Regions from separate parts of the Homo sapiens genome. Here region 1 is linked to region 2. Evidence: fine-mapped expression QTL. A gene starts in region 2. The other region holds a variant in brackets. All regions are shown on one strand. Distances are from middle to middle.

Region 1 (15,550 bases), 62 kb after region 2:
TGCTACATGATAAGATGGCAGAAGTTATCACATAAAGAGGGAGCATAAGAGAGGGAAGAGGGCCACCCTTATTCCTTTATCAAGAGCCCACTCCTGTGATCACAGCATTAATCCACTCATGAGGGCAAAGCCCTCATGACCTCATCACTGCTGAAAGGTTCTCCTAGCAATTTGGGAGGCCAATGCAGATCACCTGAGGTCAGGAGTTTGAGACCAGCCAGGCCAACATGGCAAAACCCCATCTCTATTAAAAATAAAAAAATTAGCCGGGCATGGAGGCACATGCCTGTAATCCCACCTACTCGGGAGGCTGAGGCAGAAGAGTCTCTTGAACTCGGGAGGTGGAGGTTGCAGTGAGCCAAGAAAATGCCACTGCACCCCAGCTTGGGTAACAGGGTAGACTCCATCTCAAAAAAAATATATATATATAAAATATATATCGTATAATATATATAACATATATTATATATTATATAAAATATATATAATATATAAGTTTGGACAAAGATATAGAATTATATAATATATAAGTTTGGACAAAGATATAGAATTATATAATATATAATATAATATATCAGTATATATAATTGTACTATTATATAATTATATATAATTATATATATTATATATATAATTATATATATATAATTTATATATATATAAATATATATATAAATTATATATATATATAATATATATATTTATATATATAATATACATATTTATATATATATTATATATATTTATATATATATTATATTTATATATATTTATATATATTATATATATATTATATATATAATATATAAATATATTTATATAATATAAATATATATATTTATATAATATAAATATATATATTTATATATATATAAAATATATATAATATATAAGTTTGGACAAAGATATAGAATTATATAATATATAAGTTTGGACAAAGATATAGAATTATATAATATATAATATAATATATCAGTATATATAATTGTACTATTATATAATTATATATAATTATATATATTTATATATATTAAATTATATATATATAATTATATATATATAAATTATATATATATATAAATTATATATAATTATATTATATATTATATATATAATATAAAAAATAAATATATAAATATATAAATATTAAATATATAAATATGTATTTATATATTATATATAATTATATATTATATTATTATATATAATTATATATAATACAATATTATATATAATATTTAATATAATATATATCTATCTCACCACAACGGCCATTGAATTTCAACATGAGTTTTAAAGGAAACATGCAAACCCTAGCACGAAGTATTCACCAGATGCCAGCTGTGATTATTATAATCTGAGCACGTGCATAGTACATACATGTCCACCCATGGCACAATAAAAATAACAGCCTTGGGCTGAGCATGGTGGCTCATGCCTGTAATCCCAGCCCTTTGGGAGGCCGAGGCAGGCAGATCACGAAATCAAGAGATCGAGACCATCCTGGTCAACATGGTGAAACTCCGTCTCTTCTAAAAATACAAAAATTAGCTGGGCGTGCTGTAGCGCGCCTGTAGTCTCAGCTACTCGGGAGGCTGAGGCAGGAGAATCGCTTAAATCTGGGAGGCGGAGGTTGCAGTGTGCTGAGATGGCCCCACTGCACTCCGCACACCAGCCTGTGCGACAGAGCGAGACCTCGTCTCAAAAAAATAAAAATAACAGCCTCGGGTTAAGCGCGGTGGCTCACTAGTGTAATTCCAGCACTTTGGGAGGTCACGGTGGGAGAATTACTTCAGACCAGGAGTTCAAGACCAGCCTGGGCAACATAGCAATACCTCATCTTTACAAAAAATTTAAAAATTAGTCGGGCATGGTGGCATGTGTCTGTAGACCCAGCTACTCAAGAGGCTGAGGTGGAAGGATCGCTTGAGCCCAGGAGACTGAGGCTGCATTGCAGTGAGCTGTGATCGTACTGCTACACTTCGCCGGGCAACAGAGTGAGATCCTGTCTCAAAAAAATATTAACAGCCTCGGGCCATGCCTATGTCAAGACTGTTGTGTGCAGGGAAACCATCCTGCCACCTCCCTTCGGTCTTGGGAGAGCTTAATCCTGAAAGGGTTGTGGAAGGACAAGGTGGCTTGGGGACTGGTAATGATCTCTTCCCAGGCTTCATCACTGTTCTTTTAAATAATTAATTCATCTTCTTCCTTGGTGTTTACATCCTTCAAATATTTGTAGATGGTTATCATGTCCCTTTAGTCACCACTTAGCACCACTCTGCATATTTGCTGTCATGTTGAGTGTGTGTTATCATCATTGTCATTATTATTATTATTTCCTCCCAGCTCCCTCCCTCAGTCCCTCAGCCACCATCATCACTCAGTGAATTTCCTCCAGGTTCCCAACCTTTCAAGTACCAGGTTACCCAAGATGGGACATTAAAAGTCAGTAGTGATGACAAGCCCTACTTGTCACAGAGGGCTTGCAGGCCCTCTGGTTCCTCACTAATTCTCATCAGTTTCCCCAAAGCCACAGCAAAAAAAAAAAAAAAAAGACAAACTAAGTAAAAACAGCATGCTTACACTGCAAACACAGCTTCCAGACAAATCCCCCAGCCCCTGCTCCCAAACAGATAATCCTCAATTTTCTCAAATACAAAATCAGGATGAGAATCCCTGCTCTCAACAACCTGGGATTATTGTGAGGATTCAAAGAGGAATAAAAACTGAAAGGTGCTTTGTAAACTATAAAACAGGGAGGGTGGTACTATCAGCAATGCCTTCCACATAGGATGGGATTTCTACAAAATGTTCCAGAGGTCAACTGTTCTAAAAAGCTAAAAATTCTAAGTTAGAATTTACAAATGAACTCGATAGAGCCAAGATTCACCCGAAAATCTGTCTATTGAAAGAATATAAAGAGATGCCCTACTTAAAAATCTACTCATAGATGTTAGTATTCCAAATAAAGTGTGGAACTCAGAGCTGGAGGCTGATGGGGCCTTGGAGTTTACAGATGGCCCTGACGAGACTTTAGAAGGTCAAGCTGCTATAAAAGACTTAAAAAAAATCCACCTTGTCTTGCATTTCAGATCTCACTGAAGAGTTCTTCTGTGCCTGGAAGACTTATTTTCAGTCTGAGAAGAATGATTTTTCAATGGTTCTGTTGAACATGCAATTCTCACGCAAGTATTTCTATAATTATCCTGTTTCAGTTATAATACAGTTTCTGGAACAATAGGACTTTTATTGTATTGCCATATCTGTTATAATAGATGTTTTATTACAGAAAATTATGGTAGAGTCACTATTATGATTCTGAAGTTTTTATTTCAAATTGCTCAGAGGATGCAAATTCTTTCTCCCACTAGTTTTACTTTAAGGCAGCTTTGAATTTGGGGTGGGGGTGGTTTGTCTTTTCTTCTATTGGAGCTTTGGTCTGTTTGAGGTTTTGTTCTATAGCAGAATGTTCTCTTTCGCTCCAGTGTACATAAATGAAGTCACCCATGGTATTTGCTTGTTTGTTAGCCTGTGGTGCACACAATTTTAAAAAGAATGTCACCTAGATTGTCTCTATATATCTGCAAAATTTCTTTCATTATTGCTGGAGAAGTCTCCATAACCCTGGTATTAATTTTTTTTGAGATGGAGTCTCACTTTGTCTCCCAGGCTGGAGTGCAGTGGTGCAGTCTCGGCTCACTGCAACCTCTGCCTCCCAGGTTCAAGAAATTCTCTTACCTCAGCCTCCCTAGTAGTTGGGACTACAGGTGTGTACCACCATGCCTGGCTAACTTTTTATTTTTTATTTTTTTAGACGAAGCCTCGCTCTGTCACCCAGGCTGGAGTGCAGTGACACAATCTTGGCTCACTGCAACCTCTGCCTCCCAAGCTCAAGCAATTTCTGGCAAATTTTTGTATTTTTAGTAGGGACGGGGTTTCGCCATGTTGTCCAGGCCGGTCTTGAACGCCTGACATCAAGCGATTTGCCCTCAAGTGACCCACCCACCTTGGCCTCCCAAAGTGCTGGAATTACAGGCATGAGTCACGGCACACGGCTGACAAACTATATTTTGAGAAGGTAAATACTAGTGATCATGAAACACTAATACTAGTGATCATGAAAACAGAGGAGCTGAAACTTCTAGGCACATTCAGGCTAGGTCACATCCTATTTCAGGTGGTAGCTCCACCTTGAAAAGCAGGGGGCTGGAGATTTTCTTGGTTAAATTAGAGGCTGCAGACACCCGCAGCTGCTAGAGGCAGAGCTGGGATTCAGGAATGGGCTTGCTGACTCCAACAGTGAAGGTCTTCCCCTCCAAGAGACCCCACCCGTGGGGAAGGGTGACCCTCAAATCTTGGACATCAGGTCCAACTTTCGGCCCAGTTGACTTTTCCACAAAGGAAGGATTTCAGGGCTCTGAGAAGTCCCAGAATA[T/A]CTGCCCACAGCAATCTAGCATCATCAGAACCCACCTTCACGTGTAGCCACCGTGTCTCCATGTTCCTGGTAATGCACGCTCCCAGGCTCAGAGTCTGGAACTGCTGATGGAGGGGCGGGTTCTGGGCCCTGCAAAGAACCGAGGCTCCGCAGTCACAGTCTTCGATTAGACAGAGCCCCTCCAGTTCTCAGACGATTTCTTAGGCTACCCCGAAAATAGAGAGAGGAAGGGACCTGCCCTTGATCACACTGTCAGTAACACAATCAGAACAGAAATCTAGGGCTCTTGGCCTTCAAGCCTCTGTTCTTCGCTTAACACACGGCTGGCAGAGATGGGGAGACCTGAGAGGGCCCTGAGGGTGAGGGCATTTGCACTGGGTGCAGAGCGCCTTTGGAAGGCAGGGAAGTCCAGGAAGGTAAACACACACACACGTTGTAAATATGGCGAAAATCAGAGAGGAGGAAATGTCAGGGACTCCTCCAGCACGGAAAACATCCTGATAGTTTGGAGCGCCGGGAAGAGTGGGCACCTTGGAATCTGCAAGGCATTCTTTTGCGTTTCACCTGCAGTGGGGTGGGGTCTCTGGGGTCTGCCCTCCCTCCTACTCTACATGCATTACCCATCTTATAGCCGGGCCGTCCCTGCAAAATTCCAGCTGCATGGGGGAACCACACTTCTGACTTCAGAATGAAACCAGTGTTTTGCACACATTCATTCCTCAGTCCCCTTGCTGGGACCCTTCTCTGTTATGAAAGCAGAGATCCCACCCGAATAGGGTGACTTTGGGGCGATGGATTACCTTTGGCAGGTCCTGTGGGTCAGGAATTTAGGGGTGCAGCGTGGGCCCACAGCATACCCAGTAGCCAAGGAAGACCCTCCCCTACCCGAGGCTCAAGCAGGCGCCAGGCCCCAAACCCTCACTCCTCTCTGGTCTAAATCCCCGCCGTAGGATTTTATTTTTCGGTGCTGAGGTGCTTTGCTGGAGGAGCTGCCAGGGGGAGCTGCGCGGGGCAGGCCCGGGGTACCAGAGGCCCTTGCTTTAGCGGCGGCCCTGCGTGTGCCAGAGGCTTGCAGAGTGATCTGAGCACGCCAAGAGATTGCTGTCAAGTAAGCTCCTCCACAAATCTGCAGAAACCTCAAAGATTACAGCGCTCGCACGGCAGGAGCGCAGCGGCTTCCCATACGCCGGCAGACAATGGGGCGGAGGAAGGAAGGGGACGGTGGCCTGGGGACCCCCGCGCCCGCAGCACGTGCACCGAGCCTGGAGCGCCCGCTTTACAGATCTTGTCGCTCCACCCCTAAAACAAAGGCCCCGGGGCCCCATCTGTGCCGGGCGCGGGGGAGGGCGCCGCACTTGCTGCCCGCCGCGTGCAAAGCGAGCCAGACAAAGGGCTCAGCCCTGCAGACGCGAGCAGTGGGGAAATAATTAAGCACTAAGGAAATATTGTATGTGGATTTGAGACCAACGGGAAACGCGCTCCCAAACAATGCTCGTTGTTTGCACCGAGCCGCTTTTCTGCTAAGTTTCATCAAGTAATTTGCATGCCATTTCAATAAAATTAACGAATTATGGTCGAGTTTTTTGTTTTATTGACCTAAAATAAAAATCTTCCTTTCCTTTATTATTGAAATAATTCGCCCCCCATCCCCCCCGGCTCCCATCCTCTGGGAAGGCTGCACAGCGCGCCAAGGAAATCTGTCCTCCCAGCCAGACCCCAGCGGCCTTTCTGCTGCGCTCCACAGCTAACTCCCCGGAAACCCTGCGTTTATTCTGGCTGCCCCCTTTGACTGTGGCAATAAATAGAACTTCAACCCTCTCACTTTCTTATGCCTGCTTTTCTTACAGTGAAAGCACCAGATTTCCGCGTAGGAGGGACTCGGGGGCAACGATGCAATTGGAAGGTAAGGGGCTTCTCTTAAAGCTGCATTTGCAAAGCGAGCACACTGTTTGCTAAGGTTTTATATTGCATCTTTTAAAAAAGATAATGTGGGGCCTGGCATCGTGGCTCACACCTGTAATCCCAGCACTTTGGAAGGCCTAGGAGTTCAAGACCAACCTGGGTAACATAGTGAGACCTCGTCTCTACAACAGATTTAAAAATTAGCCGGGTGTGGTAGCCTGTGCCTGTAGTCTCAGCTACTTGGGAGGCTGAGGCAGGAGGATCACTCGAACCCAGGAGTTTGAGGCTGCAGTGAGCTATGATTGCATCACTGCCCTCCAGCCTAGGAGACATAGCAAGACCCCATTTCTTTAAAAAAAAAAAAAAAGACTAAGAAATCATCACTAATTGGTATTATTAAGGAACAACATCAGTATCACTGTAGTTGTTATTTATTGCTGCATATCAAATGCAAAACTTAGTGGCTTAAGACCAATGTCCTCTCTCACAGCTCCCAAGGGTCAGGAATTTGAGAGTGCTGTAGCTGAGCGGTTCTAGATTGGGCCCTCTCTTGAGGCTGTAGTCATCTGAAGGGGTGCTTGGGCCTGGTGATGTGCTTCCCAGAGGACCACTTTCTCATGTGGCTGGGCTGTTGGCCATGAGGCCTGAGTGCCTCAGCATGTGGGGCTCTCCACAGGCTGTTCCAATGTCCTCTTGATGAGGAAGCTGGCATCCTCCAGAGGGAAGGATCCAAACAACCAAGCAGAAGCCACAGCGTCTTCATGATCTGGCTTAAAGGTTGCACACCATCACTGCAACACCCCTACACATTCGTCCATGTGGCTGGGACTGCACAGAGGCATGAAGGCTGGTAGGCATGGATCACTGGGTCCAACTCAGAGACTGGTTACCATGAGTGATTATCATTAATATGATTTGGTAGGGCTGTTGCAAGTGCCTGGAGGAGGAGAGTATTATACAGCTAAAGCCATCATTTCTTGTCTTTCTAGTCAATGCAAACAAAAGTGGTCAGTTACCTTTAATGGTATTCCCAGACAACAAACATGGACTCAGGGCCTTCCCAGTGCCAGCTCCCCCTTCAGACTGGGGAATAGAACAGTAGCCAAGAGAGATAAGGTCCCCTTCTGGCATCCCTGACTTTTCAGAGAAAGAAAACGTAAGTGTATGCATGAACACAGCAACCAGAGCTACAATACTATCGAGACAGTGCTGCCAAATGGGAAGTACAGGCCAGGTTTGGTGGCTCACGCCTGTAATCCCACCACTTTGAGAAGCTGGGGTGGGAGGATCGCTTGAGGCCAGGAGTTCAAGACCAGACTGGGCAACATAGAGAGCCGTCACTACAAAAATAAAAAATTAGCTGGATATGGTGGCGCACATCTGTAGTCCCAGCTACACAGGAGGCTGGGGCAGGAGGATCGCTTGAGTCCAGGAGCTCAAGGCTGTGATGAGGTATGATCGTGCCATTGCACTCCAGCCTGGATGACAAAGCAATTTAAAAAAAAAGAGGGAAAGTCAGGGAGGAGACTAAGCTCTGAGTGCCAAGGTTGGAGGTCTGTACACCCTGGTCCTCCCTAAATTGCAAATCTGAAATGTCCCAGGCATTGCAGATTTCCTGCAAGCCAAACCTGTTAGTAGAACAACAGACAAAAAATAAGATTTTTTTTTTTTTTTTTTTGAGAAGGAGTCTCACTCTGTCGCCCAGGCTGGAGTGCGATGGCTGCGATCTCAGCTCACTGCAACCTCTGCCTCCCGGGTTCAAGCAATTGTCCTGCCTCAGCCTCCCAAGTAGCTGGGATTGCAGGCACCCGCCACCATGCCAGACTAATTTTTCGTATTTTTAGGAGAGACAGGATTTCACCATGTTGGTCAGGCTGGTCTCAAACTCCTGACCTCAAGTGATCCACTCGCCTCTGCCTCCCAAAGTGCTGGGATTACAGGCGTGAGCCACTGTGCCTGTTTTGATATTGTCACACTTTCATGGAATACCAACACTCCCCCTTCCCAGAAGGCAGGCTCCACAAGGGAGGAGGCTGTTATGTCTTATTTATCCCTGTAGCTCTCATGCCCGGAATGATTGGTACATAATTGGTATCACTAATGACTGTCATTAATAATAATTATCTAATGGCTATCAGCCTTGTTGGTGTCCCCAAGTCTTTCAGGTTTAATGGACGTCCCCCTTAACATTAACAAATAAAAGTGATTTAAGCCCTCAGTCTACTTACAGTGAAACATGAGAACTACAGATGAAATCCTCAGCGCCCCCCAACCAACTGAACAGACCCCCTCTTGGCCAAGGGGACCCCAGAGGAAACTTAACCACAGAGTTCCCAGCCATGATGGGAAGGGAGGTCAGACACACCCCGCTCTACCCACTCCCTTTTGTGGCTTAAACACAAATGAGCAGCATTCATGTTAAAATAGAGGTCATGGTGGTCGCAGTGGCTCACGCCTGTAGTCCCAGCACTTTGGGAGGCTGAGGTGGGAGGATCAACTGTGGTCAGGAGTTCGAGACCAGCCTGGCCAACATGGTGAAACCACTTCTCTACTAAAAATACAAAAATTAGCCGGGTGTGTGGGTGCCTGTAATCCCAGCTACTCAGGGGGCTAAGGCAGGAGAATTGCTTGAACCTGGGAGGTGGAGGTTGCAGTGAGCCGAGATCACGCCACTGTACTCCAGCCTGGGTGATGGACTGAGACCCTGTCTCTAAAAAATAAAAATAAAATAGAGGTCATAAGACTGGCAGAATGGACTCTGTGACAGTAAGATACCAAATCATAACCAGGACCTAAGGGCCATATCAGGGAAGGGTTAAGTCACACACCCCTACACTTAAAGAATAAACTAGTTTCCAGCTGCCGCAAGGGGTTTCTTTTTCTCTAGCAGCTAAACAAGCCAATGGCTTGGAGATAGGTAATATTAAAACAATTGCAGTTCGCCCGCTGCCAGACACTAACTGACCCTCGTTCCACCAGCCAGAACTGCAGCTTTGATTGGACAAGAGGCTGATTCAGTAACTTTCTCCTGATAAGAGACCACTGACCATGGCCTGGTTCTGCCCATTTACAGAGGCTGTGCAATGCCTTCATGTCCCTGATTCACCTTTTGACGTCTACAGCCCGATTGTAATACACTTAAATGTGTATTCTCCACTCCAAGGTGAACATGGGATGTGTGTAACATGCATGTTTGCTTATCACACATGTGTATGGCCTCCTTCCAAGAATATTCATAGCTCTTCCTATATCCCGTTGAATATGTATACCTGGCCAACCCATTCAGCTTGAATTCCTGTCTTATCCCCTCCCACCCTTCCTCAAAGTGCCTGCCTATTGGCTTCTACTGGAGACTACACTTCTTAGCCAGTCAGGGTGGCTGCCTTGCAGGTTGTAACTCTATATGAGAAATAAAGCCCTCCTTTTCTAAATGATTTTTAATTATTTTAAATGAGTGATTTTTAAGCTAGCAGACACCAGCCCGGAATCTCTAAAGGTTGCTGAGAGAGGTGGTAAGAGCCACCTGTGCGTTTCTCCTGATCAGGAGCCTCTAAAGCCTGATTCTTCAGGGTTCGCCTCCTCGCCTCCCTCCTCAGCTCCTCCAGCCCTCCCTCTGTTCAGTGTGCCTGGCCCAAATGAACTGGGAGCTCCAGACCTTCTCGGGGACTTCCCCAAAGTCTCTATAACACAAGGTGTTGGTGCCACAGACTTTGACTGTTGGGTCTACAGTGGCCAGTGAGGGTTCAATGTAGCGGCGTGGCTCACCAGGTGCCTGGAAGGGAATATTGAGACCTCCTGGTTCTTGAGAGTTACTTGGGCCCAGCCAGGCTCTCAGCATCTTACAGGGTCTCCTGCTACTCTCTTATCTGTGGACCAGCCTCTTCCTGGACTCCTTTTCCCATATCAGGGACAATAAAACACTCACCCACTCCAGGCCACAGCTTTTGGGGTCCAGAGCTCTGAACTAACACCTTATGTTTAGTGAGGTCAAATTTTTAGGCTTAGTGCCCATCTTTCTTCTACTTAGTTTTATTTTAAATTATTTTTTAGAAACAGGGTCTCACTGTGTCACCCCGGCTGGAGTGCAGTGGTATAATCATAGCTCACTGCAGCCTGGAATTCCTGGAATCAAGTGATCATCCCACCTCAGCCTCCTGAGTAGCTGGGACTACAGGTGCATGCCACCACACCTGGCTAATTTTTAAATTATTTTTAGAGACAGAGTCTCCCTGTATTGCCCAGGCTAGTCTTGAACTCCTGGCCTCCTGCCTTGGCCTCCCGAAGTGCTGGGACTACAGGCATGAGCCACCACACCCAGCCCCACTCTTCTAAGTGGAGGGAAGGTTTAGTCTGCCCCCGTAACGAATTATGCAACACTCTTTCCCCCTTAGAACATACAAGCACTCTGGTCAAAGTTTCTGAGATTTTATTTTAGGAGCATTTTTCATTTTGGCTAAACATAGACATATATACCCACAAGACTGCCGGTTAAAACAAATAAAATATCATCTTGAGGAAACAAGCACATCTTGAGTAAGTTTCTTTCAAGATGTTTTGGTGCATTCTATGCTATCACTTTGCAGAACAATTTGTTGTCCATGCGGTAACTTTAGGGGCTGTCTGAGATGGTCTGTTCCTAAAAGACTGTGGATGGGAGAGGTGACAGTAAATCCTGGAGAGTGGAGTGAATCCCAGCCATTCTGTGGACAGGTGGGCTGAGGGAGAAGTTCAGAGGGCACTCTAGAGTGATTTGCAACGTCTCAAACAGAAATATAACATCTTCTTTCATCCTCTGCAGAGTCTGGAGCTAAATTCACACCTTTTTTTCCCCTTCCCTCACTTAAAATCAAATTCTCGCCCTTAATACTTCCTTTCAGAACTGCACCGAAAATGACGATGTCTTCTCATGCATATGAATTATCCAAAGTGTAGGAAGATGCGCCCCCACTGGAGTACGCTGAAGCCTTTAACCCAAGTACATTTAATGCTGCGAAGCCCCGAGTGAGGCAAAGGTGTCTTTTTATTTTAGAAGACATTTAGGACAGTTCATGTCACTCTGCACAGATGCACTGAAATTGATTGTGGGGCAAACTATAAAGAGAGCTTATGCTCCCCAAATCTGTTTCCGAGCCAGGTAGGATGATGAATTCTGAGGTGGGACTGAGGGGGAACGGTGGCAGCTCTCTCCCCTGCACGCACCGGCCAACTACTTCCCCGTTTGGACATTGGCGTGACACCCTCCTTCCCTGTTCATCTGTGAAAATGTGCAGCGTTTTCATTTAAAACCTCCTGCTCCAACATGGGGCCTTCTGCAGACCGCAGGGACCCCCAACAATTACTTGTTGGAAGAACAAATGAAGCATAAAGCATGATACTTTATTTTAAACATACAGGTGGCACAAATTTATTTCCAAAGATTTAAGCACCTGATGACTTCTCCTTAGAGAAAAAGCAATAAAAGGAGCCTCTTCTGTCACAAATTTCCACTTAGCATGGTTTGTGCAGAGGCAGAATTTCAGGCTTTTACCACTGAGCTCTGGACATGAAGCAAAGCTAACACTAGAGGGTGCTATAGATTAGGAAATCCAGGGACCATGGGCGCCGGAGCGCGTTCAAGACGCTGCCCTCCCGATTGTAACCTAACAAACTGAGCGTGTCACTTTGCCAGAATTTACCCCTTCACCATTTCTGCTATGATGAAATTATCCAGATATGTTTAATTTGAAATTTTAACTTAGTCTGTGATTATGTGGAATTTCAACACTGGCTGTGGCCCAGTGCAGTGGCTCACTCACACCTGTAATCCCAGTGCTTTGGGAGGCCAAGTCTGGTGGATAATTTGTGGTCAGGAGTTCGAAACCAGCCTGGCCAACATGGTGAAACCCTGTCTCTCCTAAAAATACAGAAATTAGCCTGGTGCCTGTAATCCCAGCTACTCGGGAGGCTGAGGCAGGAGAATTGCTTGAACCCTCAGGAGGCAGAGGTTGCAGTGAGCCGAGATCACGCCACTGCACTCCAGTCCTGTCTAAAAAAAAAAAAAAAAAAAAAAAGGACTGAGCCCAGGTCTGTAGGATAGACACTTTGTGTTTGTATCTTAAGTACTTTGCGATCTCACCCTTACAAACCTGATACTAAATTCCACTTACCTACTTCAGTCCTTCTCTGAGGGAAGGTGGAGTTTGGAGGCAATTTTAGGAAGCAGGATGAGGAAACAGGGAAGGTGACACAGTGAAGGACAAGCCAACACAAGGGTGGATTACCAAGGCTGGTCCCCTCTACAGGCACCCAGGGCTCGGTCCCACGCGGACTGCTGAGTAGACAGAAGACCTTTCAGAATCTTCTGCCTCTCCCCCATTTGCTGAGAGTTCCCTGGGAACGGTAACCCCCGTACCTTCGGGCTGAACATATGTTTGCATGCTGAATGGGCTCTTTCTGCCATCCCATGCCACAGCATTCAGGAAGCCCTGGGGCCAAAGCAAACAGCATGCTTGAGGCAAGGTGCTGTGAGGCCCAAATGAGCTGAAGCTTGCACAAAACTGCTCACCACTGCCATAGCTGAATCAGCGGAGGCCAGGAGGATGCGAGGCGGTGCCCGTGATTGTCTGATCATCTCCCTCTTGGACCGCTGAGACTCAGGCATGCCCTGCATCAAATCCAACCTGTCACCAGGTCTTCAAGGGGGAGGCCTGCGGAAATCCTACTGTGAATGAAACTACAGTTGCTATTCATCGTCTCCCTCCTGCACCTACCACTCCAGATGTCCCTCACTCTTGGCCAGCACTTTGGCTTGTTTAAGTTGTGTGCCAGGTGAGGTGACCACACCTTCCCCCCTGCAGTTTCTGAGTCTTTCCTGAGCTTTGTCTTGGTTGGCCCTTGGCTGCTGTGACTGCCTATTTTATCTAATTGCAGGTTCAAGATTCACCAAGAAGGCAGGGCGCAGTGGCTCACATCTGTAATCCCAGCACTTTGGGAGGCTGAAGCAGGCAGATCACTTCAGCCCAGGAGTTTGAGACCAGCCTGGGCAACAGAGCAAGACCCCATCTCTAAAGAAAAATAATTATTCAGGTGTGGTGGCACATGCCTGTAGTCCCAGCTACTCAGGAGGCGGAGGTGGGAGGATCGCTTGAGCCCAGGAGGTTGAGGCTGCAGTGAGCCGTGATTGCACCATTGCACTCTAGCTGGGCAACAGAGCAAAACCCTGTCTCCAAAAATAATAAGTAAATAAATAAATAAGATACTAAGAGACAGCCCAGTGACTCTCCTGAGTCCCAAACATACTCATCCATCCCTCATGGAGAAACAACTCTATCTCCTTGCAATAATCAGAACTAGTTTCTCCTGCCAGTTTAATCAGTACTTTTTTTATTGCAGTAAAATACACACAACATAAAATGTGCCACTTTAACCATTTTATTATTATTATTATTATTATTATTATTATTAAGACGGAGTTTCACTCTTGTTGCCCATGCTGGAGTGCAGGGGCGCGATCTTGGCTCACTGCAACTTCCACTTTCTGGGTTCAAGCGATTCTCTTGCCTCAGCCTCCGGAGTAGCTGAGATTACAGGCACACGCAGCCATGCCCAGCTAATTTTTGTATTTTTAGTAGAGACGGGGTTTCACCATATTGGTCAGGCTGGTCTCAAACTCCTGACCTCAGGTGATCCACCCACCCCTTGGCCTCCCAAAGTGCTGGGATTACAGGCGTGAACCACCATGCCCAGCCCATTTTAACCATTTTTAAATGTTCATTCAGTGGCCTGAGTTATATGAACATTGCTGGACAACCATTGCTACTATGTATTTCCAAAACTTTTTAATTGCCTTAAACAGAAGCCTTGTAACCATTAAGCAACACCTCCCCATCCCCTCTCCCCTCAGCCCCTAGTAATCACTAGCCTACTTTCTCTGCTACTTTGTCTCTTGTAGATGTTTCAAACAAGTAGAATGATATGATACTTGTCCTTTTGAAACTGACTTATTTTACATAGTATAGTGTTTTCAAGGTCCATCCATGTGGTGCATGTATTAAAGCTTCATGCACTTTTATGGCTGAATAATGTTCCATTGTATGTACAAGGCGTGCCACATTTTGTTATTCATTCACCTGTTAATGGCAACTTGGCTTGTTTCCACTTTTGGGCCCTTGTGGATAATGCTGCAGTGAACATCAGCATGGATGTCTCTGAGTCCTGCTTTCAGTTCTTCAGGGTATATGCCTAGCAGTGGAGTAGCTGATTCTATGTTAATTCTATGTTTAATTTTTTGAGAAACTGCCATATTGTTCTCCAGGCTGGCTGCACCATTCCACATTCCCACTAACCGTGCACAAAGATTCCAATTTCTTACCAACACACTCTCATCAATACATGTTATTTTTAGTTTATCGTGTTTTCATTTTTCTTTTATTAATATATAGCAGGCATTCTAATGGGTGTGGGGTGGTATCTCATTTTGGTTTTGATCTGCATTTTCCTAGTGTTTAGCGATGTTGAGTATACTTTCCTGTGGTCATTTGTATATTTTCTTTGGATGTGTATCTGTTCAAATCCTTTACTCATTTTTAATTGAGTTGTCTTTTTGTTATTGAGTTGTAGGAGTTCCTTATATATTCTTGATTTTAAAACTTTATCAGATATATGATTTGCAGATATTTTCTCCCATTGCATCGGTTGTTTTTTCAGTTTCTTGATAATGTCCTTTCATGCACAAAAGTGTTTAGTTTTGATGAATTCCAATTTGTCTCTTTTTCTTTCTTTGCTCATGTTTTTGGTGTCGTATCTGAGAATCCATTACCAAATCCAAGGTCGTGAAGATTTACCTATATGTTTTCTTGTAAGAGTTCTGATGTTTGTCATTGATCCATGCTGAGTTAACATTTATACCGTATAATGTAGGGGCTACCTCTTCATTCTTTTGCATGTAGAAACTCCGTTATCCTAATTGTTGCTAATTGCCTCTGGCCCACTGACTTGAGAAGCCCAAGAGGACCAGGGAGTATTTGTATTTTCAAGTTCTGTAGAATTGGTGATGTTCCCTGGTGGAGGAGTCCACTCTCCGCTCCTCCTCCCCCATCAAGAACTAAGACGTCGAATTTGCTAGAGCCCCACCCAAAGCTGTGGACACAGGAAGCACACATTTCTCAAGGTGGTCTCTGCGAGTGATGGTGAGAGCAGCCGATCTCACTCCCCCCGCCACCCCCTGGGTTTCCA
Region 2 (15,550 bases):
CTCAGGTGATCCACCCACCTCGGCCTCCCAAAGTGCTGGGATTACAGACGTGAGCCACTGTGCCCGGCCCAAGTTTAGATTTTTAAAATCCAGCATGCTAGCCAAGCAAAACGGAACTGTGGGACCTGCAGGCAGCCAGTGTGAAAACCTCACACCTAGGAGTTTTTCATTGCCTGTACAGGTGCCCACAGCACACACACATCTGGAAGTCAGGCCTCTCCTCCACTTCTCTGAATACTCAGGTGCAGTCCCTCCAGAGGGCAGGGCTCATTGCCCTTGCAGTGGATCCCATCTCTCCAGCCCATGTCTACACAGTTTTAATATTCCCAAATTATCAATCACACAAGGTGATGGTATGTATTAGGTTATTGTTATCATCATCATCATCACCACCACCACTGTTAGGATGCACAAATGCAAAAGGTACAAAATTCAAAAGACAGAACACGATGTATGAGTTATCGGTTGCTGCCTAACAAATTACCTCAAAATGTAGTGTCTTGAAGCCTGGGCAACATAGTAAGACGCTAAGACACTGTCTCTACAAAAAGTAAAACCAGCCAGGTGTGGGGGCATGCACCTGTCATCCCAGCTACTCAGGAGGCTGAGGTGGGAGGATCACTTGAGCCCAAGAGTTTGAGGCTGCACATGAGCCATGATTGCACCACTACAGTCCATCCTGGGTGACAGAGCAATACCCTGTCTTTAAAAAGAAAAAAAAACTAGTTGGTGGCTTGAAACAATACATACTTATACGGTATCACAGGGCTTCTGCAGGGCAGGAGCCAGGGAATGGCCCAGCTGGATGGCTCTGCCTCTAGGTCTCCCATGAGGTTGCAGCTAAGATGCTGGTCTAAGCCATGATCACCTCAAGGCTTTCTGGGGCTGAACAGTCTTCCAAGAGTCTTCCTCACCCCTAGCAAGGGGTTGGTCGCTGTTGGCTGGAGGCCTCAGTGTCTCCCATGGGCTTCTCCGGAGGGCTGCATGGACCTCTTCATGACTCAGCAGCCAGCTTCCCCTGGAGTGAGTGATCCTAGGAAGCAAGGCAGAGGCCACAATGTTCTTTATGACCTAGACCTGGAAGCCACGCTCTGTCATTTCCACAGTATCCTGTTGGTTACAGAGGTAAATCCTATTCCCTGTGGAAGAGAACTATACCAGGGCGTGAATACCACAAGGGTGCCAGGCATGGTGGCTCACACATGCAATCCCAGCACTTTGGGAGGCCGAGGCGGGCAGATAGCTTGAGCCCAAGAGTTCCAGACCAGCCTGGACAACATGGTGAAACTCTGAATCTACTAAAATAGAAAAATTAGCCAGGTGTGGTGGTGTGCACCTGTAATCCCAGCTACTTGGGGGGCTGAGGTGGGAGGATTGCTTGGGCCCAGGAGGTAGAGGTTGCAGTGAGCCATGATCGTGCCACTGCACTCCAACCAAGGCAACAGAGCAAGACTCAGTCTCAAAAAACAAAAACAAAAACAAAAACAAAACCACACACACACACACACACACACACACACACATAACAAAACAACAGCAACAAAACAAACAAAAATACCACAAGTGTATACAGTAAATGGGAATCTCCCTCCCACCCATTTTCCCTTCCAGAGGCAAACCCATGACCAGTTTATTGTGAATTCTGCCAGCAATACACACACACACACACACACACACTCTCACACACTCACACTATGCGTCCACTTGTATACCTTACTTTTTTTTACTCAGTATATCCTAGAAATCCTTGCATTTCAGGACATGAAGACCTGCCTTATTTCCTGAAACTGTGGGAAGCCATTCCATTGTATGAATGACTCGTAATTTCTTTGGCCGGCCCCTGTCAGTGGATATTAGGGCTGCTCCCTGCATTTCCCTACTGTAAGCAATGCCACAATAAATGAATGAGTGTTTATATCCTTTTGCACAAGGACAGGAGTATTTAAGGATAAATTCTGGAAGTGGACCAGCTGGAGAAAAAAGAGCCTGTGCTTTTTTTTTTTCTTTTTGACAGAGTCTTACTCTGTCACCCAGGGTGGAGTGCAGTGGCATGATCTTGGCTCACCGCAACCTCCATCTCCTGAGTTCAAGCAATTCTTCTGCCTCGGCCTCCCAAGTAGCTGGGACTACAGGCACCCGCCACCATGCCCACCTAATTTTTTTTTCTTTTTAAGACGTAGTCTTGCTCTGTTGCCCAGGCTGGAGTGCAGTGGTGCGATCTCAGCTCACTGCAACCTCCGCCTCCTGGGGTCAAGCAATTCCCCTGCCTTAGCCTCCCAAGCAACTGGGATTACAGGCATGCACCATCACGCCTGGCTAATTTTTGTATTCTTAGTAGAGACAGGGTTTCACCATGTTGGCCAGGCTGGTCTCGAACTCTTGACCTCATGATCTGCCCGCCTCGGTCTCCCAAAGTGCTGGGATTACAGGCATGAGCCACCGCACCCGGCTCTTGCCCAGCTAATTTTTGTATTTTTAGTAGACGGGATTTCGCATGTTGGCCAGGCTGGTCTCGAACTCCTGACCTCAGGTGACCCGCCTGCCTCAGCCTTCTGAAGTGCTGGAATTACAGGTGTGAGCCACTGTGTCCGGCCAAGTCTGTACATTTTAAAATTTGATCGATGTTGCCACATTGCCCCCCATGAAGGTTGGTTGTAAAAATTTATGCTCTCACCAGCAAGAAAATGGATTTATGAAGGCTTGGGTGGTAATGGCCAAAATGTAGGGCATTCCCTGGGCAGTTCAGTAAGTAATTAAAAATGGAATATCACCTGTCCGGGTGCAGTGGCTCATGTCTGTAATCCCAGCACTTTGGGAGGCCAAGGCAGGAGGATCACTTGAGACCAGGAGTTTGAGACCAGCCTAGGCAACATAGCAAGACCTGTATCTCAATAAAAAATTTAAAAATTAGCTGGGAGTAGTGGCGTGCACCTGAAGTCCCAACTACTCAAGAGGCTGAGGCAGGAGGATTACTTGAGCCCAGAAGTTCAAGACTGCAGTGAGCTATGATTGCACCACTGTAAGCCAGCCTGAGCAACCAAGCGAGTCCCTGTCTCAATAAAATAAATTTTAAAAAGAATAAAAAGTAACATGGAATATCACCCATCCCTGTTCTTTGAAGCCTTTCCCAGCCCCATTCCACAACCAGAGAGCCTCCCTGGCCCTCTCTCACGCCATGTGCTGGACTTTTTCTCTCTCTGGCTTGCTTGTTCCTGGCCCCTGGAATTTCTGTTCTTGCCTTAAATGCAGCAAGTGAGGAGGTATTTGCCAGCCAGACCCCAAAGGCTGACACTGAAATGCCAAATGGTTCTCCAAGATGTGTCATCCAACCAAGACAGCTTCTCCTGCACAGACCCCTGCCCTCTACTCGGGGTGGGCAGCCTTCTCTCCTCATGGATAAATATGACGTGTTCATGGGTTTGCCCCAATGGACTGTGAGCTCCCCAAGGGTAGAGGCAGTGCCACATTCATCCCTGGATCCACTGCCTGGGTAGTGGCACAAAGAGGGATCCAGTAATTGCTGAATGAATGAATGAATGACCCAGACAGAACTTTGTCAAACCAGTGCTGTCAAAAGCCTCTTGGATGTACTCCATTGACATTAGGTGGGTCTAATACTCTCAGGTTATATTGGCCTGCAACATTTATTTCACATCTCGAAGGCATTTTTCAAAAAGCATTGCTTCTGTTTTATTTATTTATTTTTAGAGACAAGGTCTTGCTCTGTTGCCCAGGCTGGAATGCAGTGGTGTGATCTTGGCTCACTGTAGCCTCAAACTCCCAGGCTCAAGCGATCCTCCCTCCTCAGCCTCCTGAGTAGCTGGGACTACAAACACGCACCACCATGCCCAGCTAATTTTTGATATTTTTGTAGAGATGGGGTTTCACTATGTTGCCCAAGCTGGTCTCGAACCCCTGGGCTGAAGTGATCCACCCGCCTCAACCTCCCATAGTGCTGGGATTCCAGGTGTGAGCCACCACGCCCTGCCTGCTTCTGTTTTCTTTTATTTCTCCTTTCCCCCTTTGGCCTGGTTGGAGCCTCAAGGGGAAAATCCATGCTGGGAAACAAAAACAATAATGCCCGTGAACATGAAGTGGATGTGCAGACAGCTGGAATGATAAATGCAGGGCATACACACACACACACACACACACGCACATACACACACACAGAGAGAGAGAGAAAAGAATAAACAGGCAGACGGGCAGGGCAAGTGGGTGCGGGGGCGTCAGTGTCATCTCATGGTTCCGTAGAGTCGAGATTATCTCAGCTTCAAATCCAAGGCCCCTGCAGCAAGCCCGCCCTCAAGATTCTCTTTTGAAGTCACAGTTTGCCAAACATCTCTGGGTTTCCTCCTTTAAAACTAATCTTCTTAACCATTTCAGTAAAAATCTTTTCAAAATGCCCCACATTTTATGGCTTTGAGACTCAGTGTCTTTAGTATGTTACGGTATCTATAAAGAAAGCAGCATTTAGGCCAAGTGCGGTGGCTCACACCTGTAGTCCCAGCACTTTGGGAGACTGAGACAGGAGGATCACTTGAACCCAGGTGTTCGAGACCAGCCTGGCCAACATAATGAGACCTGGTCTCTACAAAAGATTTTTTAAATTAGCTAGGTGTGATGGGTTGTGCCTTTAGTTCCAGCACTTTAGGAGGTAAAGCTGGGAGGATCACAAGGTCAGGTGTTCAAGACCAGCCTGAGCAACATAGAGAGACCCCCCCCGCCTCCCCTACATCTCTACCCAAAATTTAAAAAGTTAGCTGGGCGAAGTTGCATGGGCGCATAGTCCCAGTTACTCAGGAGGCTGAGGCAAGAGGATCGCTTGAGCCCAGGAGGTAGAAGCTGCAGTGAGCCATGATTGTGCCACTGCACTCCAGCCTGAGTGACAGAGCAAGACCTCATCTCTAATAAATAAATAAATTGAAATAAAATAAAAATAATGTTTTAAAAAGAACACAGCATGTAGTAGTTTGGGAATCAGACAAATTTAGGGTCAGTTTGAGGATCTACCCAAGCTAAACAGTAGGACCTCTGTTTCCTTTGTTTTTCTTTAATTTGTTTTCCCAATTTTTTGTTTTGGAAACTTTCAAATCAATAGAATAGTTATAAGAAAAGTTCAACGAATAGCCAGAGATCAGGGACTGGTAAACTTCAGCCCACATCCTGGTTTTGTATGAGCTAAGAATGGTTTTTAATTTTTTCAAATGGTTGGAAAAAAATTTTTAAAGAATTTTTCATAACACACGAAAATTACATGAAATTCAAATATCAGTGTCCATGACGTTAACTCTCTTGTTTAAGTATTGTTTGTGGCTGCTTTTGCTTTGCAACAGTGAAGTTCAATAGTTGCCGTAGAGATCCTGGCTCTCAAAGCCCAAAGTACTTAACATTTGGCCCTTTACAGAAAAAGATTGGAGACTCCTGACCCCAATTTACCAATTGCTAATATTCTGCCTCCTTTGTTTTCTCTCTCTCTTGCTGGAATGTTTGTGTTCATCCTTAAATACTTCAGTGCCTATTTCAGTTTCTTATACTGAAAGCTGGGAATGACAGCTTTAGTGTGGGAAGAGATAAGATAACATAAAATGTTTAGCACACAGTGCTTGGCCTGTAGACAGAACTTAATAAACGATCCAAAAAAAATTCCTGGCATTGAGCACAGAGGTGGTTGCCAGAATCCCTAACCTGAAAATGCCGAGCCCCACTGCTTTTCTGAAACCCGGGTTCCCGCAGTCTGGAAGCCAGCTTTTCCTCCAAAAGGGCTTCTTTCCTGAGAAGTAGCAAACGCCTCGGAGAAACCTCATTCTTTCCACAGCTATGTGGCTTGGCTGACTCAACTTCTGCCTGCCCCTGAGTCACGAGTTTTTCCTCTCTTATTTGGAGGAGCGAGGCCCTCCACCCTCCACCCAGCTGTCCCCACGCACAGCCAGCCCCGCTGGGAAGTGGATGGACAGCTGGGAGACCAGTGCGTGCTGCCTCCAGGGCGTTTCTTGGAGCGCCATTCAGATCCATAGTTGGAAGGAAGGACAGAAGAGGAGACTGAGGTCCAAGTGGGCCCTGGACCACCAGCAGGACAAGGCTAGGAGGAACATCCTCCCTCTAGTTTCCCAGTCATGAAAAGGCTTCCTTCTCCCGAGGCCTCCTCTGTACGGACAAGGTGTTAGATGCCAGGACACTGTTATAAAGAGACAGCCCTGCCTTCCCAGGGGACTGGCTCCCTTCCAAGTCTCACAGCCACCTCCACCCCAGCCAGGGCCTACCCTCCATGAGAAGCAGCTCCTTGCCAGGGAGGTGGCGGAGCTGGCACTGAGCAGTCATGGATCGCAGCCTTGAAGGCTCAGCTTGAAGTCCCCCTCCACCCGCTGGTGACAAGCAGTGTGTACACAGGAGATGGTGTTTCCCAGCATCCCAATGGCCCCACTGACCCTCCTGGTTATTACTCTGCCTGTGGGATCTCAGACCTTGTGTTTTCTGCTCTCTGTGGTATAGAGGCCTGGCTGCCCCTTCAGGACTTGTAAACCCAAACGTATATTCATCTGGAGGTGCAAAAGGGGGTAAAGTGCCCCAAGGGGGAAACCAGAGGGAGTGTGGGGACCATAGTGGAGGGGAGAACACAAGGCCCCTCTAAAGAGGACCCGCATTCTCAAATCTTCTGATTTAAGAGAAGCTGAAGATCCTGATTTTTATGTGAACTCTCCCCATATGAAATGTTCACAGCAATGCATTTTAAAAATGTTTAAACACTTTGAAAGCAAACAGACATTATTCGGGTCTTGTGGGGTTCAGGGTTACTTACCAGGCGGTGACTTCTGTTGAATGCTCATAAAAGCTGTCCTTGCTGATGAGGGCAACGGTAGTGGGTGGGCGCCATGAAGTGGTAGTGGGGAGGGGGCTCCCCAAGGCCACAGCTGGTGGCCCTCTCACTTGCCTGTCCCCTCTCCCTCCCCCTCCGTCACCCCCTTTCCCTTCCCTTCTCAGCTGGGAGAGGACCGTCTCCAGCACTGGGCCCACCTCACAGCCTCGCCCATAGCCCCCTGCCAAGAGAGCAGGCACCTCTTCTAGCTCCAGCCCCACAGCCCTACAGCCCATCAGCCCTCCCCCCGCTGCTCCCCTCTCACCTGGTCCTGGCCCAGCAGGCCTGCCCCGGCCTGAGCCACCCCTCTCAGGGTGCCCAGGTGGAGTTCTATTTGGCAAGACAACCTGCATCTATGTGACAGGTAGGGACTGCGTTCCTCCTATGCGCTGCCCGTTCTCAGCACTCGGTATGCAGGGGTGAACCAGAAGAAAGTCCTGTCTGAACACGAGAAGAAATTACTGTCTAGCCCGTGGGGCTCACAGCCTGGGTGGGAGGCAAGCCACCAGCATGACTTGTTTATGAGCATTCCACAGAAGCCACAGCCTGGTAGGCAGCCCTGAATCCCACGAGCGGCCTCAGGAGAGGACTCTGGGTTGGGAGATGCTTTGCAAAATTACAAACACGGGTGACTGTGGAGGGAGATGGGGTGGAGACAGGGAACCGCTTTGGGTGGCCAGGGCAGCCTCCCTGAGGAGGTGACAGTTTGAGGTCTGATGGAGGTAGAAGCAAAGGCCTGAGGCTTTAAGGAACAGGAAGAAGCCCATTTGAGAGGACCTGTGGGGAGGAGGCCAGGGAGGGCCAGGAAGGCCTCCGGGCACTGAGGCCTGGGAATTTCCTTCTGAGCCGCACAGGAGGCTCAGGTGCGGTTGAGTCAGGGGTGACATAACTTGCTGCTAGTGTTGGACCTGGGTGACGGGCACCAGGGTCCCCTGGACTATTCTCTTTCCTTCAGTTTGAAATTTTCCACTATAAAAAGCTTAAAATAGGCCAGGTGCGGTGGCTCACTACTGAAATCCCAGCACTTTAGGAGGTCAAGGCGAGAGGATGGCTTGAGCTAAGGGGTTCGAGACCAGCCTGGGCAACATAGTGAGACCTCCGTCTGTACAAAAATACAAAAACTAGCCGGTCCTGGTGGGCTAATTCTCCTGGGGTCAGGATGATTTCTGTGCAGGCTGCAGTGAGCCGTGACCGCGCCATTGCACTCCAGCCTGGGCGACAGAGGGAGACACCGTCTCAAAAAAAAAAAAAGGTTATAAAGTGCTGCTGCATTTTCATATTACGATTATTGACCGCTGAGGGTGACTGTGCTGTGAGGCCCGCCGGAGGCACCAGAAGGCACAAGCCTCCCACTGCCCCTTTCCCCGCCAAGTCCCGCAGGTCTCGCAGTCGCGGGCGCCCCCACCCCACCCCTGCCCAAGGCCAGGGTCGCAGTCCCACCGGGTGACGGCAGTCGCGCTCCGCGTGGGGCAGCGGCGAGCGGAAAGGGAAGCCGGGCGGGGCCAGGGGGTCAAACACGGGCGACAGTCCCGCCCAGCCCCGGACCTGCAGCGCGCACAAGCTCGGGCGCCCTCCGAGCGCCGCGCCCAAGCCCCGCCCCTCCCGCTTCCCGGGCTCCGATTGGCCGAGCCACCGCGGGGGCGTGTCCGGCGGAGCTGGCCGGGACCCGGGCGGAGCGGGCGGGGACCCGGGCTACTGCGGTGTGGACTCGAGGGCTGGGCGCGGGGCCGGCGCAGAAGGTGAGTCCCCCCACCGTCCCCCGGCCGGGCTGCGGGTCGCGGGGCAGGCGCATGAGGCGAGTCTCCCATCACCACCCCCGGACAAGCGAGCTCTCTCCCGCCGCGCGGTCTTGGCGGCTCCTGGGCCGGCGGGGCGCAGTGCCGCTGACTCCAGCCCAAGAAGAGGCCTGGGAAGGGCGCTCCTGGGCGGCTTGCGGGGTGAACCTGCAGGGAGCCTGGGGAGAGCGGTCAGGGGTCAGAGCGTCCGAGGCGGAATCCCCGGGGAAACGCGCAGATGTAAGCTGGTGGAGGTAAGGGGGTCGCGGGCCACCCGGGACTGCAGGGGTCTCAGCGCACCCGGTCGCTGGTGGTGTTTCCGGGATCCTGGCCTCGTGTGGCCGCCGGGACCTCTCTTCTCAGCCCCAGTCTGCAGTCTGGAGGCCTGGATGGGACCACTGTCCCCCTGGGCAGGGGCGCGGCGGGGGGCGCTGGGGTCCCAGTTCCTCTGGAGCAGTTGAGTTTGTGATTCTTGGTGGGAGCTGCCAAGGGAAACAGGGTCGGGCACTGCTCCCATCTCAGAGAGGAAACTATTGAGCAGGCCCGCAGAGAGAGGCGGCCTGGAATCTCCCTCCTTTCTCGTTTCCCCAACACCTGGCGGGCCGTGTAGGGCAGAGGTGTGGTCAGCCTCTTTGCAGGTGGGAAAGCAGAGAGGTTCCGAGCCACGCTGAAACTTGATCTCTGCAGCCCAAGGGGAGCACTCCTTTGGAATTTGAACACCTCTGGTATCTCCTGGCCAGAGAGGGTCAGAGGCCAAGGAGGTGGGGAGGTAGTCCCCTAATGCGCTGGGATCGTCCCTCTGCACAGCGTCGTTCCCACTGGAGTCTGTTGTGAGCTGAGATGACTCTCTGACTTCGGCCTGCGTCCCTGCACACGTCAGCCCTCCGGGCTGCCAAAACACAGGCCAGGCAGCCCTGGGTGAACTAGGGGACCTGCCCAACCCAGCCCACCCCGAGGAAGGAAGGGGGATTGGCCAGTGTGGCCTGGAGGGTGGGACAGCCCAGCCAAGCTGACGGACCTGCTCGGGATGGGGTGGGCATCAGGCATTTGGAGCGCAGGCAACACCCGCTGGACTCTGACTTCTGGAGTTCTGATTTGGTCTCTGGTTGAGTGCAGCTTTCCACAGCTCATGGTTATTTTGGAGCCGAGCTTCCTGATCACTCAGCAGGGACCTTGGGCAGTGACTTTGATGTGGTGGAAGTACCTTCCCCAAGGGGGCTTTTGTGAGGATTAAGTGAAATAATGAACGTAATATGCTTAACTTTGTGCCTGGTGAGCTCTAAGTGCTCAGTCGGCGGCACTTCCAGTTTTGTTTTGCTTTGTTTTTCATTACCGGTCTCTTCCCGGAGGAGGGCCTTCCAGGAATCACAGGGCTGGACAGAGCCCAGGGGCGGCCCCTCTGGAGGGAGAGGAGGCTTGGCGCCTGATGCTGCAGTCTCAATGCACATGGAGAAAACCTCACATCCTCACGCTGGCCTGGGAGCCTGCAGGATGTCTCCTGCCGGCACTGCAACCTCATCTGTCCTCCTTGCCCCATCGCTCCTTCCTCCGCAGCCTGACTTCACCCATTCCACCTTGAGCTGCTCCCCAGGACCGGAGCTCTGCCCCTAGATCTTTGCACAGCTGACTTCAGGCTGGAGTGAGTTCACTTCCTCCCAAGGCCTTCCTTCCTCGACCTCCACCGTCCTCCCAGGCCCTGCCCTGCTGGGCGCACCAGTCTTTTTCTTCACAGTGTTTAGCACTGGCTCTCAGAAAAGACCCTGTGAATGTACTTCTAGTCTCACTGGCAAGAAGTGTGCATTCCTGAAGGGCCTGGTCTCCAGCTCCCGGCTGTAACCTCGCACAGTGTCTGGCACACAGTGGGACTCATAAATATTTGGAAAATGAAATCAGGCAGGCATGGAAGCAGGGTGGGTCTGCGTGCGGCCCAGGTCCCTGCAGGGAAGGAGGAGCCCCGATCTGGAAGTCAAGGGAAAGTCCAAAGGGCTGAGCTGCCCCCAGAACTCTGATTCCCTTGGTGACCCTGGCCCTGCACGTCCCTGAGCAGGTTCTCCACCTGTAACCCGAGGCAGAGCAGTTACAGCCCCCACCCCATCCCCCACCGCTGCCCAGCTCCTACTTTCCAGGGCTACCATCTTGGGGCCCCACGCATCTCTCATTTATCCAAAATGCTGTGTCCGGAGTAGGAGAGAGGACAGGACGACTCCCGTCAGGACAGTACCTTGTGTGGCCTGTTCAGCGTGCCCTGCAGTGTGTGCATTATACATTTTACAATGTGGCATGGTGTAGATCAGGGGTTGGCTAACCTTTTCTCTCAAGAGCTGGTAGCAAATAGTTTAGGTTTTGCCAGCCATACAGCCTCTGTCCCACATGGCTGTGTTTGAATAAAACTGGATTTAGAAAAGCTGGCAGTGGCCCAGATTTGGTGTAGCTCTCCAGCCCCTGCTGTTGATCACGTATCACACCTGGGCTGCCACATACAGAACCTGGCTTCATGGCTTCTGCAGCCACACGGGGGCTCTCAGGATGTGGCTCCCAAGCCGCAGTGCTCACATGAGCACCTCCAGCCCCTGTGCAGGCAGCAGGATTGCTGAGCCTGAGAGCCCCCACCCCTCTGAACCCTCAAAGAAAGATGCAGGTCTGTTCGTTGCCTGGTCTCCCAGGCTTACTGAGCCTGCGCTGGGGTCACCCCTCTACCAGCAGCCCTGGGGCCACACTGGGGCCAATACAGGCACTCAGGGCCCAGAGGCTGCCAGGAAGCTCTGTCACCAACATCTTCCCGAGGCAGGCCGGCCCCAAATGAGTAAGGACAGGGCTCAGCTTTTTTCTCCCCTGTGCTAAGCAAGGGAGGTTCACTTCCCTAGTGAGAACAATTAAAAAAAAAAAAAGGATTCCCAGCTGGGCTCAGTGGCTCATACCTGCTATCCCAGCACTTTGGGAGGCTGAGGAGGGAGGATTGCTTGAGGCCAGGAGTTCAAGACCTATCTAAGCAACAGAGTGAACCCTCGCCTCTAAAACAAATTTAAAAATTAGCCAGGCATGTTGGTGCATGCCTGTGGTCCCAGCTACTCAGGAGGCTGAGGCGGGAGGCTTTCTTGAGCCCTGGAGTTCGAGGCTGCAGTTAGCCCTGATTGTGCCACTGTACTTCAGCCTGGGCAACAAAGCAAGACAATGTCTCAGAAAAAAAAAAAAAAGAAAGAAAGAAAAAAGCATTCCCCATCTAACTCAGGGCTGCTGTATTTGCCAAGAAAAACCTACAGGCAAGGTCAAACCAGGATGTGAAGTTGTGGTCATGTAGAGAAGGTGAGCATGCCGGGGCAGCTCCCAGGAGGATGTTGTCTGCCCCGCCCCTCGCCCAACCTGGGACCCTCTGCAGGTTCACAAAGGAGGGCACATGTGAGCCCCTGGCTTCCCCAGTCAGTGTGTGGGGTCAGCTCTCAGCCCAGCCCCTTTCATCGCCACCAGATGCCCCTCCTCGCCCTTCCTGGTCCACATTTTACCATCAGCAGCTGGACACTAGCCCTAAGAGCCTAGAGGGGGTCTGTGAGTCATGGGTGGGGGCAGAGCAGCAAAGGGGTCCCATGTGGAGTGTTCTGCACCCCCTCCAAGGGCTGCAGAGACAGCGTCATGGACTCTGCCCTCTGCTGGACGGGTCCAGGGTGGATTGGGCACCCCTGCCTGCAGCTCTCTTCTGCCTGGTGCTGCTCCTTCCCTTCCTCCATGCCATCCACTTGGCTGGCCCAGTCTCCAGAGCTCAACAAGCCCCCAGGGTTGCGGGAGGGCTACCTGCTCTCTGGGCACAAAGCCCACCTGCCTCAGCTACTGAATGTGGAGGCTTTGGTCTGCAGTCTCAGGTTTGGGTTTTCATCCCGTTTCACCAGTGGCCTGACTTCTCAGCACACAGCTGGGCTGGGGGCACACGTGGCCTTGCTTCTTCGGGGCTCCTGACATCCCCTGCAGGTGCCCAGGCCTGGATGCCATGTGGTCACCCTATCAGGCCCAGCCAGGCGTCCCATCATGAGACATGCTCAGCGGCCCCCAGCCCATGGAGCCCAGGACCCAATCCAGACACTGGCCTGTAATTCTTTTCCTTTTGAAGACCTTAAATTAGAAGAAGCAACACGTGTTCCCATTTCTTGAAATTGGCAGATATTCGGATTTCATCGTGTTTGCTGCTGCCTTTTTTTAAAAAAACTTTTTTAAAAATGAAACCTTATAGACGAAAGTGGAATCCAATCTGAGCCCTCCATTCCTGGTCACATCTATGTCCTCTCCCCAGGCTACTTACTCCTGACTTTCTCCTTCCTATCTTTTATTTTTACCATTCTAACCACTTTCAAGTGTACAGTTCAGTAGTGTTAAGTATATTCCCATTGTTGTGCAACAGATCTCCAAAACTTTTTTTTTCTGAGACGGAACTCACTGTGATGCCCAGGCTGGAGTGCAGTGGTGTGATCTTGGCTCACTGCAATCTCTACTTCCTAGGTTCAAGTGATTCTCCTGCCTCAGCCTCCTCAGTAGCAGGGATTGTAGGTACATACCACCATCCCTGGCTAATTTTTGTATTTTTAGTAGAGACAGGGTTTCACCATATTGGCCAGGCTGGTCTCGAACTCCTGACCTCAAGTGATCTGCCCGCCTTGGCCTCCCAAAATGCTGGGATTACAGGCATGAGCCACCACACCTGGCCTCTAAAACTTTTTAATCGTTTAAAACTGAAACTCCATACCCAGACAACCTCCGCATTCCCCTTCTGGCAGCCCCTGGCAACCACCATTCTATTTTCTGTCTCTATGAATTTGATCAGTATGTATATCTCATATAAGTTATTACAGTATTTGTCCTTTTGTGATGGGCCTGCTTTACTTAGCATGATGTCCTCAGGGCTCATTCGTGTTGTAGTGTGCGTCAGAATTACCTTCCTTTTCGAGGCTGAATAGTATTCCATGGTATGTATGTTCCACATTTTGTTCATCCATTCTCCCATTGACAGACGTTTGAGTTGCTTCCACCTCTTGGCTATTGTGAATGATGCTGATATGAACATGGGAAAGCAGATATTTATTTTAGTCCCTGCTTTCAGTCTGGATATATATCCAGAAGTGGCATTGCTGGATCATATGGTAGTTCTGTTTTTAACCTTTTTTTTTTTTTGAGACGGAGTCTCACTCTGTCGCCCAGGCTGGAGCACAGTGGCGCGATCTCGGCTCACTGCAAGCTCCGCCTGCTGGGTTCACGCCATTCTCCTGCCTCAGCCTCCCGAGTAGCTGGGACTACAGGCGCTCGCCACCACACCAGGCTAATTTTTTGTATTTTAAGAGACAGAGTTTCACCGTGTTGGCCAGGATGGTCTAGATCTCCTGACCTCATGATCCCCCCTCCTCGGCCTCCCAAAGTGCTGGGATTACAGGCGTGAGTATTTTTAACTTTTTAAGGAACTTCCATGCTGTTTTCCTTAGGGGCTGCACCAGTTCCTATTCTCATCAGCAGTGCACAGTTTCCAGTTTCTCCACACCCTCACCAACACTTGTTATTTATTTTTTGTTTTGTTTTTTTCCCCTCCTTTTTTTTTTTTTGAGATGGAATCTCACTCTGTCACACAGGCTGGAGTGCAATGGCGCCATCTTGGCTCACTGCAACCTCTGCTTCCTGGGTTCAAGCGATTCTCCTGCCTCCGCCTCCCGAGTAGCTGGAATTACAGGTGTGAGGCACTGTGTCCGGCCTTCCTCCTACCTATTTTTATTCATAGATATAGTTCTTGAACACTTTCAGAATGTTATGTAATTCCTGCATAAGTGGTGTCACTTTACATACAACATTCTACAGGCTGTGTTTTTCCACTCCACGTTTGTTGTTTGCCGTCAGACCACATTGATCTGTATCTCTCATTGCGTGAGTAGCCCCGGGTTTTTATCCTTTTCCCTGCTGGTAGGCATTTTGGTTGTCTCTGCTGGGCAGTCATTGCTCTTTGTGGAATGCAGTTCTGGTTTTGTCAGATTGTCCCTCAGCCAGGTACTCGGTGATCAGTCATGGTGGGACAGGTCAGTTCTGTCACTGGTAATCCCCTAGGTTTGCAGTATACAGCCAAGATCAGCAAGCTAAAAATAGCAGTTCTTACGTAAGGTAGTGTGGGCAGCCCTTCTCAGGACACTTGTGATCTGCAGGGGCAAGTGGAACGGGACTCGAGGGCCCAGCATCTTCTGTTCTGCAATGCATCCACCCTCACACTGGGGCCCCACTCTGGCTTTCTACTGGTGGCCAGGCTCAGAACTGCAGCTCAGTGACCCAGAAACACTATGGGTGTGATCAGCTCAGCCCCAGGCGTGCCGTGTGTACCGGAATGCATGTGTGCACGTGGTGGTGGTGGGGCCAGCTCTCACCTCTTCCTCTGTAGAGGTAAGAGCTGAGTCATGCATGGTGGGCCTTGGGACCTGCTTGGAACCGTGCCAAGCTACTTATGAAGCATCTAGTATGTGCTTGGCATGGCTCCAAGAATTGTGGACACAATGAACAAGAAGAAGCTCCTGTTCTCATGGAGCTAAGAACTGAGCAGGGAAGCAGAAAACACACAAGCAATGAATAGACAAGCAAACAGCAGGTCCTGTTAAATCCCACAAAGAAAAACGATTGAATCCCAGAGAAGTGGCCAGCAGACCTTTTCTACAAAGGGCCAGGTGGTGAATATTTTAGGCTTTGTCACCATGTAGTCCCTGTCACCAACACTCAACTCTCCCATTGCAGTGTGGAAGCCACCAGAGACAATAATAAATGAACGAATGTGGCTGTGTCCCAATAAATCTTTAACAAAAGCAGGCTGAGGGCCGGATTTGACTCTCAGACCTTGGATTACCAATGCTTGTCCTGGGTGTGGGAAGAGGCTGCCTGAGCTGGGGTTGTCAGGGAGAACCCTTTCAAAAAG

What was found.
Region 1: its variant is fine-mapped to the expression of PLEKHF1 in tibial artery (GTEx, PIP 0.90).

What each region holds. Positions count from the first base shown.
Region 1 is chr19:29,718,741-29,734,290 of GRCh38, forward strand. It overlaps LOC107985345 (a long non-coding RNA gene), which reads left to right and starts at 5,393. Exons shown (of 3, transcript XR_001753891.3): 1 at 5,393-5,543; 2 at 6,283-6,338. RefSeq lists a silencer at 9,797-9,991 and enhancers at 11,952-12,001, 12,122-12,171. The variant T/A (reference allele first, on the strand shown) is at 4,436.
Region 2 is chr19:29,656,911-29,672,460 of GRCh38, forward strand. It overlaps PLEKHF1 (pleckstrin homology and FYVE domain containing 1), which reads left to right and starts at 8,551. Exons shown (of 2, transcript NM_024310.5): 1 at 8,551-8,595. LOC105372353 (a long non-coding RNA gene) reads right to left here and starts at 8,345. Exons shown (of 7, transcript XR_935896.3): 1 at 8,297-8,345; 2 at 7,122-7,297; 3 at 751-1,033. RefSeq lists a silencer at 8,119-8,788 and enhancers at 8,310-8,863, 8,864-9,417, 8,869-8,988, 9,609-9,658, 11,805-12,114 and 1 more.